Linked DNA regions of Homo sapiens: all the other regions are reported to be linked to region 1. Evidence: microRNA targets listed by miRTarBase, many of them from high-throughput screens and not tested one by one. Region 1 holds a microRNA gene; each other region holds the end of a gene's coding sequence.
Evidence for each region. Region 1 holds the annotated microRNA hsa-miR-143-5p (GGUGCAGUGCUGCAUCUCUGGU, at 2,319-2,340, shown strand). A microRNA usually pairs through its seed, bases 2 to 8, with sites in the 3' UTR of a target mRNA and lowers its output. Matches are read on the target gene's strand: a 7mer-m8 pairs with bases 2 to 8, a 7mer-A1 pairs with bases 2 to 7 and ends in A, and an 8mer does both.

Region 2: the mRNA of SLC25A33 is a reported target of hsa-miR-143-5p. Seed matches in the 3' UTR shown: 7mer-m8 at 1,308-1,314.
Region 3: miRTarBase lists TEP1 as a target of hsa-miR-143-5p. Seed matches in the 3' UTR shown: 7mer-m8 at 1,478-1,484 and 7mer-A1 at 2,007-2,013.

Annotation. Positions count from the first base shown.
Region 1 is chr5:149,426,626-149,429,974 of GRCh38, forward strand. MIR143 (microRNA 143) reads left to right here and starts at 2,293; the gene lies at 2,293-2,398. CARMN (cardiac mesoderm enhancer-associated non-coding RNA) reads left to right here. Exons shown (of 5, transcript NR_105060.1): 4 at 2,258-2,414.
Region 2 is chr1:9,582,269-9,585,268 of GRCh38, reverse strand. SLC25A33 (solute carrier family 25 member 33) reads right to left here. Exons shown (of 7, transcript NM_032315.3): 7 at 96-2,970. The coding sequence ends at 2,768. Among named protein-coding and RNA genes, the nearest start is that of TMEM201, 5.1 kb to the left of the region's middle.
Region 3 is chr14:20,365,798-20,369,146 of GRCh38, reverse strand. It overlaps TEP1 (telomerase associated protein 1), which reads left to right. Exons shown (of 55, transcript NM_007110.5): 54 at 245-349; 55 at 588-3,349. The coding sequence ends at 710. Among named protein-coding and RNA genes, the nearest start is that of PARP2, 24 kb to the right of the region's middle.

The sequences.
Region 1 (3,349 bases):
TCTCACTCTGTCACCCAGGCTGGAGTGCAATGGCAAGATCTCGGCTCACTGCAACCTCCACCTCCCCGGGTTCAAACCATTCTCCTGCCTCAGCCTCCCAGGTAGCTGGGATTACAGGCTCCCGCCACCACGCCTGGCTAATTTTTGTATTTTTAGTAGAGACAGGGTTTCACCATGTTGGCCGGGCTGGTCTCGAACTCCCAACCTCAGGTGATCCGCCTACCTTGGCCTCCCAAAGGGTTGGGATTACAGGTGTAAGCCACTGCTCCCAGCCTTTTTTTTTTTTTTTATTAGAGACAAGGGCTCCCCATGTTGCCCAGGCTGATCTTGAACTCTAGGCTCAAGCGATCCTCCTGCCTGAGCCTCCCAAAGTGCTAGGATTACAGGCATGAGCACTGCTCCCAGCTCTGTTTTTGTTTTTTTAAGGAGGTATATTTTTTCTGTTCTCTCTCAGCCCTGAAGAAAGGCTACCCATCCCCTTCAGACATTCCTGAAAATATATGTCATCCAACATCAAGGCCACCACAGTGACCACTAAGCAATGCAAGAAGGTCCTCTGGGGTGCCCTGAGATCTTGGCAGGGCAGGAAGAGTGAGAAGGGGCTTTGCCTGCTCACCTGAAAGTTCCCACCCAAGCCGGGCCCAGAAAACAAAATGAATTATCTACATGGTCATCCAATCAGCCACCAAATGGCATTACCTAGGTCCATCATCATGTACCAAGCCACAGGTCAGACCCAGGGCCCCCCAAATTAACAAGACACAGGCACTGTCCTCAGGAAGTGGAGATCTAGCCAGGTCAGACCCACACACAAATAACACTGATACTAGAGATAATGAGATTGGGAATTATGATTCAGCCATTCAACCTGGGCTTATGTGGCATCTACACCACCTGGCCCTGATTTCAGTAGTGAGCACAGTTGACAGGGTCCCTTCCCTTCACAGGTGAGCCATGTAGTCCACAAGTGGAGGTGGTCGTAAGTGAAAACCACATTACCAGCATGGTAAAGGGTTAGAAAGAGGGCACCGGGTGGGCGAGAACATGAAGCAGGGGGTGCTGATGGCTAAAGAAGTAAAGGAGGGGCTGGGCACTGTGGTTCATGCCTATAATCCCAGCACTTTGGGAGACCAAGGCGGGTGGATCACCTGAGGTCAGGAGTTCTAGACCAGCCTGGGCAACGTGGTGAAACCCTGTCTCTACTAAAAATACAAAAATTAGCCAGGCATGGTGGTGCACGCCTGTAGTCCCAGCTACTTGGGAGGCTGGGGCATGAGAATTGCTTTAACCCGGAAGGTGGAGTTTGCAGTGAGCCGAGATCGTGTCACTGCACTCCAGCCTGGGCGACAGAGGGAGACTCTGTCTCAAAAAAAAAAAAAAGTCAAGGAGGGTTTCCCAGAGTGGCCACTTGATTAGAGACCTAGCACAGGAGGAAGAGATGGGCAGGGAGAGTGACGGGGAGCAGCACAGTCCCTGGGAGCCCGAAGTGGGTGGGCACAGGGCTCCCTAGGAGAATGGAAGGACATCTATGAGCTGTAGCCCAAGAGGAAGAGGTCACTGGGGCTAGATGCGGCAGACCCTCGCAGGCTTTGGGAAGGGCTTCAGAATTCAGCCTGAGGGCAATGGGGAGCCCTTTTGGGATATTAAACTTGAGTAAGATATGAGCATATTTGCATCTTGAAAAATCATTATGGGAAGATGGCTGGGAAGAGAGGAGGAGTGGCAGAAGAAAGATAGGTTGGAGACAATTGATTGCTCGATGATATAAAATGTTAAGTACCATGAATGATGCTGTTAGGCTGGAATGCGCCAAGCATAAAGGTGGGGCATGGCATCAAAAGGTAGGTCAACATATTAAATAATTCCATGTATTGAAATATCCAGAAAATATATAGACAGATCTATAGAGATAGAAACTGGTCTGCCCAGGACTAGGGGTTGTCTAAGGATAAGGAGCTTCTTTTTTGGATGGTGAAATAACCTAAAATATATTGTGCCATTGTTTGCACAACTTTGTGAATATATTAAAAACCTGTTAATTGTACTCACTAAATGTCCTCCTTCTAAATTAAGCTGTTCTTGACAAGAAAAGGAAAGAAACAAAGAAAAGAAGAGAAAAAAGGTCAAGGTTTGGTCCTGGGTGCTCAAATGGCAGGCCACAGACAGGAAACACAGTTGTGAGGAATTACAACAGCCTCCCGGCCAGAGCTGGAGAGGTGGAGCCCAGGTCCCCTCTAACACCCCTTCTCCTGGCCAGGTTGGAGTCCCGCCACAGGCCACCAGAGCGGAGCAGCGCAGCGCCCTGTCTCCCAGCCTGAGGTGCAGTGCTGCATCTCTGGTCAGTTGGGAGTCTGAGATGAAGCACTGTAGCTCAGGAAGAGAGAAGTTGTTCTGCAGCCATCAGCCTGGAAGTGGTAAGTGCTGGGGGGTTGTGGGGGGCCATAACAGGAAGGACAGAGTGTTTCCAGACTCCATACTATCAGCCACTTGTGATGCTGGGGAAGTTCCTCTACACAAGTTCCCCTGGTGCCACGATCTGCTTCACGAGTCTGGGCATGTCCTGACTCCTCTGTGTACCCCAGTGTGTCCATCTTAGCATGAGGCGTTAGCATTTCCCCAGCACCCTGCCTCTGCTTTCTCTTTCTGAGCCCATGGCAGACACAGCTAATCAGTAAAGGCATATATTCTTTTTTTTTTGAGACACAGTCTCACTCCATCACCCAGGCTGGAGTGCAGTGGCATAATCTCAGCTCACTGCAACCTCCTCCTCCCAGGGTCAAGCAATTCTCGTGCCTCAGCCTCCCAAGTAGCTGAGATTACAGGTGTGCGCCACCACACCTGGCTAATTTTTGTATTTTTAGTAGAGATGGGGTTTCACTATGTTGGCCAGGCTGGTCTCAAACTCCTGACTTCAGGTGATCTGCCCGCCTCGGCCTCCCAAAGTGCTGGGATTACAGGCATGAGCCTCCACGCCCCGCCAGGCATCCATTCTTGAAGTGCTCAGATGCAGCTTCAGAATCCTCAACAATGAGCCCTGGAAAGCCACTAGTACTGATTCACAGCTGAAACTCATTCATCATTTGTGGATCAAACAATTCCTAAAAACCCTTTCAGCCCTGAAGATAAAAATTCTGGCCTTTGAGTCAGGGTCTTCACTCTGTACTTCTAACCTTGGCTCCGGGGTATTGCCGAAACCAGTCCAGGCACGTCACAAATGTCTGACTTCTCCCAGAGGCTTCAGAAGCACAATGAGCAGCAGAGGAGAGCCATGGAGCCAAGCACAGTCTCATTTAACCTCCCCAAAAGCTTGGGAAGTGGGTGGTGTTATAGCCCCATTTTACAGATGAGA
Region 2 (3,000 bases), not on the chromosome of region 1:
TACAGAGGAACCATCACTTCTTTCCTACTTTGGGTGCCTAAGCAGCTTGCATTTCCATGCCCTGGGGCAGGAGAAGCAGAAAACTAAAATTATAATTGGTTACTATCAAATTTATTCATTCAAGAAGGAGTGAAAACAAAGCAATTTTACACCTTCATATTAGACACAATCTTGGAAAACAGGTTTTAATATGGATATAGGAGGATGTTGCTAAGTGCCATCATCGAATATGAATATTAAAATAGGAATGTGAATATTAAAATTAGATGTTACTCTGTAATTCCAGTGCTTTGGGAGGCTGAGGAGGTAAGATCGCTTCTGGCCAGTAGTCTGAGACCAGCCTGGACAACATAGCAAAACCTCGTCTGCACAAAAAATGAAAAAACATTAGCTGGGCATGGTGGTACTTTCCTGTGGTCCAAGCTACTTGGGAGGCTGAGATGCGAGGATCCCTTGTGCCCAGGAGTTTGAGGTTACAGTGAGCTATGATCTTGCCACTGTATCCAGCTTCAGTGATCGAGTGATACCTTGTCTCAAAACAACAATAACAACAAAGGAAGGGGCGGCGCGGGCCAGGTATGGTGGCTCCCTCCTGTAATCCCAGTACTTTGGGAGGCCGAGGCGGGTAGATCACCTGAGGTCAAGAGTTTGAGACCAGCCTGGCCAACATGGTGAAACCCCATCTCTACTAAAAATACAAAATTAGCCAGGTGTGGTGGCGCATGCCTGTAGTCCCAGCTACTCAGGAGGCTAAGACAGGAGAATTGCTTGAAACCGGGAGGTGGAGGCTGTAGTGAGCCGAGATTGTGCCACTGCACTCCAGCCTGGGAGAGACAGAGCGAGACTCCATCTCAAAACAAAACAAAACAAAACTTCTGGAATAGCATTACTGTCATGTATTGTAAAGTACAGAAGCTTCACTAAAGTCACTCATTTTGACTTCTACGTAGTTGTTGGAGCAATTACACTAGAGTCAAGAACCCCAGTTAAAAGTAAACTCAATTTAAAATAACTTGGAAATATCCTCCTCTTAACCCTACCAGGGTGTCTGCAAGTAAACCTGAAACTACAGTGCATAGGTATTAGAAATGAGTATCTTTCTAGACGTTCAAATTGAAAACCAACCTTCATGTACAATATACTCAAATTCCAGTGAAAGAGCTAATGGAAGACTAGGGGTTTTACTTGCCTTCTTCTTAGTATCATCTTTTTGTTCCCTTATTAAATTTGCTTTAAAACCAAGGGGGTAACATCCTGGTTTTTTTTTTTTTTTTGAGATGGAGTCGCACTCTGTGGCCCAGGCTGGAGTGCAGTGGCGCCATCTCAGCTCACTGCAAGCTCCGCCTCCCAGGTTCACGCCATTCTCCTGCCTCAGCCTCCCGAGTAGCTGGGACTATGGGTGCCCGCCACCACGCATGGCCAATTTTTTTGTATTTTTTTAGTAGAGACGGGGTTTCACCGTGTTAGCCAGGATGGTCTCGATCTCCTGACCTCGTGATCTGCCCGCCTTGGCCTCCCAAAGTGCTGGGATTAAATTTTTTTTTTTTTTAATGTTGAACTAGGATATTTAAACAATCCCAGTGCTTTCTATCAGAATGTGAGCTCTCTGACGGGTGAGCCATAGTCCTACGTTGTGCTCCTTTTCTGCAAGAGCAGAGGTCCAAGAACAGGGCTAAAGACCTCAGTGGGAATGACTGTTCTTCATCACATTCTGGATTCACAGCCAAACAGGGTAGCTGTGCTGTCAACACACTTAACAAGGCAACTGGTCTTAACTTCCGGAACTATATCCAGGAGCCAGGCCATTGATAAAACAGTTCTTTAAAAATTCTTGCCTTTGGTTCAAAGTAGGGAGAAAAGGATAACTTCAGGAAGTTTTTTATAGCTTAAAATATTGAGTCTCAGAAAGTTATATATATTCATCTCAGCAGTCTGAACGCTTAGATGATCAATCTGCAAGTAATTGGAAATGTACAAAGAAGAAAAATTGCTGGGAAGTTTGTCCTGGTCCACACACCACCACCAAAATGTGACACAATTTTTTTTTTTTTGAGATGGAGTCTCACTCTGTCGACCAGGCTGGAGTGAAGTGACGTGATCTCAGCTCGCTGCAACCTCTGCCCCCTGGGTTTCAAGTGATTCTCCTGCCTCAGCCTCCCAAGTAGCTGGGATTACAGGCACACGTCCGGCTAATTTTTGTATTTTTAGTAGAGACAGGGTTTCGCCATGTTGGCCAGGCTGGTCTGGAACTCCTGACTTCACGTGATCCATCTGCCTCGGCCTCCCAAAGTGCTGGGATTACGGGCGTGAGCCACAGTGCCCAGCCAAAATGCGACACTTCTTCCCTGTCTAGCAGTGCAAGATCTTAAAGTCAGATTATAAAACAAGTTGTATTCTCACTTTATCATTTTTCTCTGCAGTTCTAGGGCAGGTTTATCTGAATTACTTAAGTCCTTCATAGTATAGTGAGCATAAAAGAGGACACAAGCCAAATGTATACTTAAATTAAATAGCATGATTTAATTTAGTTGGTGCTTAACCCTGAATCCTCTTAAGTTAAAAAAAAAGTTATAATTAACTATTAACGTTAATGAATTTAAACCTTCCAGAAAGCATGAATCCAAAAGGAAATGTCCAACAGGTGATATGAACCAGATATTTTATGGCCTTTCCTGTTTCAGTCTCAAACTTTCTAAACATCAATGGGGAAAAAAAATTCTCTAGAGTTTTTCAGTTTTATTCTTCTAGAGCACAATTTTCCGGCCTGTTACTGAGTACGGTCTTCTAACAGGTACACAATTAACTCATAAGTAGACAACACAATGGCAGTATTTGGGATCTGCCGGATAAGCTGGGCAAACAGTCCTCTATAAAAGGCAAGGTAGCCTTCTTCCCGGAACACCAGGCGCGCCGTCTGGACAAAAGACTTGTACTTGGTGCCCTCTTCCCGGAGCCTCGTCCTTATGACTTCTGCAGAGAGAGAAAGACCTACTTTACGCC
Region 3 (3,349 bases), not on the chromosome of region 1:
AGTCCCAGCTACTCGGGAGTCTGAGGCAGGAGAATGGTGTGAACCCGGGAGGCAGAGCTTGCGGTGAGCCGAGATTGCGCCACTGCACTCCAGCCTGGGCGACAGAGCGAGACTCTTGTCTCAAAAAAAAAAAAAAGAAATACTAAGGGAGGAGGGCTGTAGGTCTGACACAGCACATTGTGATGCTTCTCTGAGGAGGGGCCCCTGAGAACTCACCATTCTGCTCTCCCCTTTCCTCTTTGAGATTCACTCGGGCTCTGTCACAGCCCTCCATGTGCTACCTGAGTTGCTGGTGACAGCTTCGAAGGACAGAGATGTTAAGCTATGGGAGAGACCCAGTATGCAGCTGGTAAGTGTGTGTGTGTGTGTGTGTGTGTGTGTGCGTGCGCCTGCACACCTATCCCAAAGGGATGTCACAAGACAGCAAACTTAGAGTAAGAAAGGGCAAAAGATCAAAATTCTGTTTTCTTCAATCACTTGCAATGTATGACTAACCTGTTTCTAAATAAAAGGCATTAATGTGAGAAAAAATAAGTTAGTAAGGAGGCTTGTAGCCCTGACCTCCCCTATTTTTGTTCCCATCGTAGCTGGGCCTGTTCCGATGCGAAGGGTCAGTGAGCTGCCTGGAACCTTGGCTGGGCGCTAACTCCACCCTGCAGCTTGCCGTGGGAGACGTGCAGGGCAATGTGTACTTTCTGAATTGGGAATGAAGATGTGCCACTCGGGAATAATGATACCCCTTGTGCTAGAGATGCAAAGCCTGAAGACACTGGTAGCTTTTAATAATTATAAAATTAATAATTTCTTGATAATTATAAAAATGAAGTGTCAAAAAATCTCAAGTGTAGGCCTGCCTGTGTTCTCATGTGGATTTAGAACAGGAGGATATTCTATGTGTATGTATATGTACATTCTAATGTGTGTCTCTTCTTATTCAACATTAATCCTTACTAGAACCACAAGAAAGTGAATGAAATCTTTAGTAGGTACTCTTTTGAAACTAGGTTTTAGAATTCTTGCATCACTCGCGGGCCCTAGGACCCTAGGATGCCATTCTTGCCAGGAGGAGGAATGAGAGTGATGTTGGCCAACATTCAATTTGAACAGAGCATGGAAGACCTTTCAGTTCATCGGGAAAGAATGAGGGAGGGAGAATAAGTCAGTCATGCATCAGGGCATTTAGAAAGAGCTATGTTTCTGTCACAGAGACAGCCCTTTTCTCAGAACTACCCAGAGGAGGCCGGGCATGGTGGCTCACGCTTGTAATCCCAGCACTTTGGGAGGCCGAGGTGGGCAGATCACGAGGTCAGGAGATCAAGACCATCCTGGCTAACATAGTGAAACCCTGTCTCTACTAAAAAATACAAAAAGTTAGCCAGGTGTGGCGGCGGGCACCTGTAGTCCCAGCTACTTGGGAGGCTGAGGCAGGAGAATGGCGTGAACCCAGGAGGCGGAGCTTGCAGTGAGCCGAGACACCACTGCACTCCAGCCTGGGCAACAGAGCGAGACTCTGTCTAAAAAAAAAAAAAAAGAACTACCCAGATGAGAGGTGAGGAGCCAAGCCATTGAAAGCGGAACAAACCTTCTGGTTTTCCCAACTTCTGACACGACTTTCAACTTTAGTCAATATGGTAATTGGCATTCTCAGAAGAGATCACGAAAGTGTCTTACTCTCTCTCAAATTGAAATTCACAAAGATTAAAACTAATTGAGAGGTGGCACAATCATAGCCATGAACTCTGATTTTCTTAAGTAAAAAACCTTTTTTTTTTTTTTTTGTTTTTGAGATAGAGTCTGGCTCTGTCACCTAGGCTGGAGTGCAATGGTGCAATCTCAGCTCAGTGCAACCTCTGCTTCCTGGGTTCAAGCGATTCTCCTGCCTTAGCCTCCCGAGTAGCTGGGATTACAGGTGCCCACCACCACGCCCAGCTAATTTTTGTATTTCAGTAGAGACGAAGTTTCACCATGTTGGCCAGGTGGGTCTCAAACTCCTGACCTCAGGTTATCTGCACACCTCAGCCTCTTAAAGTTCTGGGATTACAGGCGTGAGCCATTGTGCCCGGCCCATAAAAGAACTTTATTATATTTCTAAAATTCAATCATATGGAAGAATCTATTGAGCAGGTTAGCCTTTGCTTAACTTTCCTCCTCTGTTACTCCAGCCTTAGCTGGGGTGTTTTGTAGAATTTTCAGAGCATGGGAGACAGACAACTAGAGCTTCCTCCTGCCCTTGGCCCATGCTTTTAGGAGAGCAAAAGGCAAAAGATTGAAACCACTGACTTTAGTTTCCTCAGGCCCTTTCTTTCTGAGGGTTAAAGAAGAAGGAAATGTCTTCTGTGGCCAAGAATTCAAGGACTTGTAGGAGATAAGTGAAGGCTATTACAGGGATTTTGTCCTGGTTTGGTAGGTTTCTCTTGGAGAAATACCACTACACCCTGGTCTAGAAATGAGTTTTGAAGACTTGGGGAGTTAAAGGGCACTGAGTTTTACTCTCACTGTACCCTGATTCCAGGTTTTACATGGAGAAATAACCTGAGGGACTTTATTTCTATCCAATGCCCTGGTTTCCATCCTGACCAGAGGATGATGACATCCGCTGATAGGCCATGCTTCTGTCTTCTCTTATGTGCCTCATGCCAAGCCTCGAAATATACCTTCTGGACCATCATTTCCACATCTACCTTGTGACTAGAAGTCCTAGTTATGGTATTTTGAAATTTATGATCCATAATCCTTGCCAGAAATCCTGCAGCGAACTATGGCATGGCATCATCCTAGTCATTGATTTCAATCTTTTGCCTTTTGCTCCCCTAAAATCTTGGGCCAATTGCAGGAGGAAGCTCTATTTGTCTCTCTTCCATGCTCTGAAAATTATATAAAAGCATCCCAGCTAAGGCTGGAGTGAAGGGGTTGGGGAAAGTTAAGCAAAGGCTAACTTGACCAATAGGCTCAATAGATTCAGTCTTGTTGGCCAGGCCCACTTGAAGGGTTTTTTGTTTCATCTTGGAGAAGGACAGTGAGGTCATGGTATAATTGTTATGAGTAAAGTCAAGAACAGCTTCTAGGTAAAAGTAATTATGTACCCAAAAGGAGTTGAAGGGAAAATCAATTTAGGTTTACATTAAACATCCTTCAAGTTCTTATCTTTAAATGGAGTTTCAGTGTCTCCCAAAGGCTGGATGAGTTTTACAGTTATAACCACTGGATTGTGAGACCATAGGACATTTGAACAATCTTTTCTTCTACCCATCTAGAAAAGCATCTTTTTTATATACCAAATTTTTACACATATATCCACATCTGTTTTTGAAATCTAGAGCAGAGGTACTCAAAGTTTGGTTCATGGACT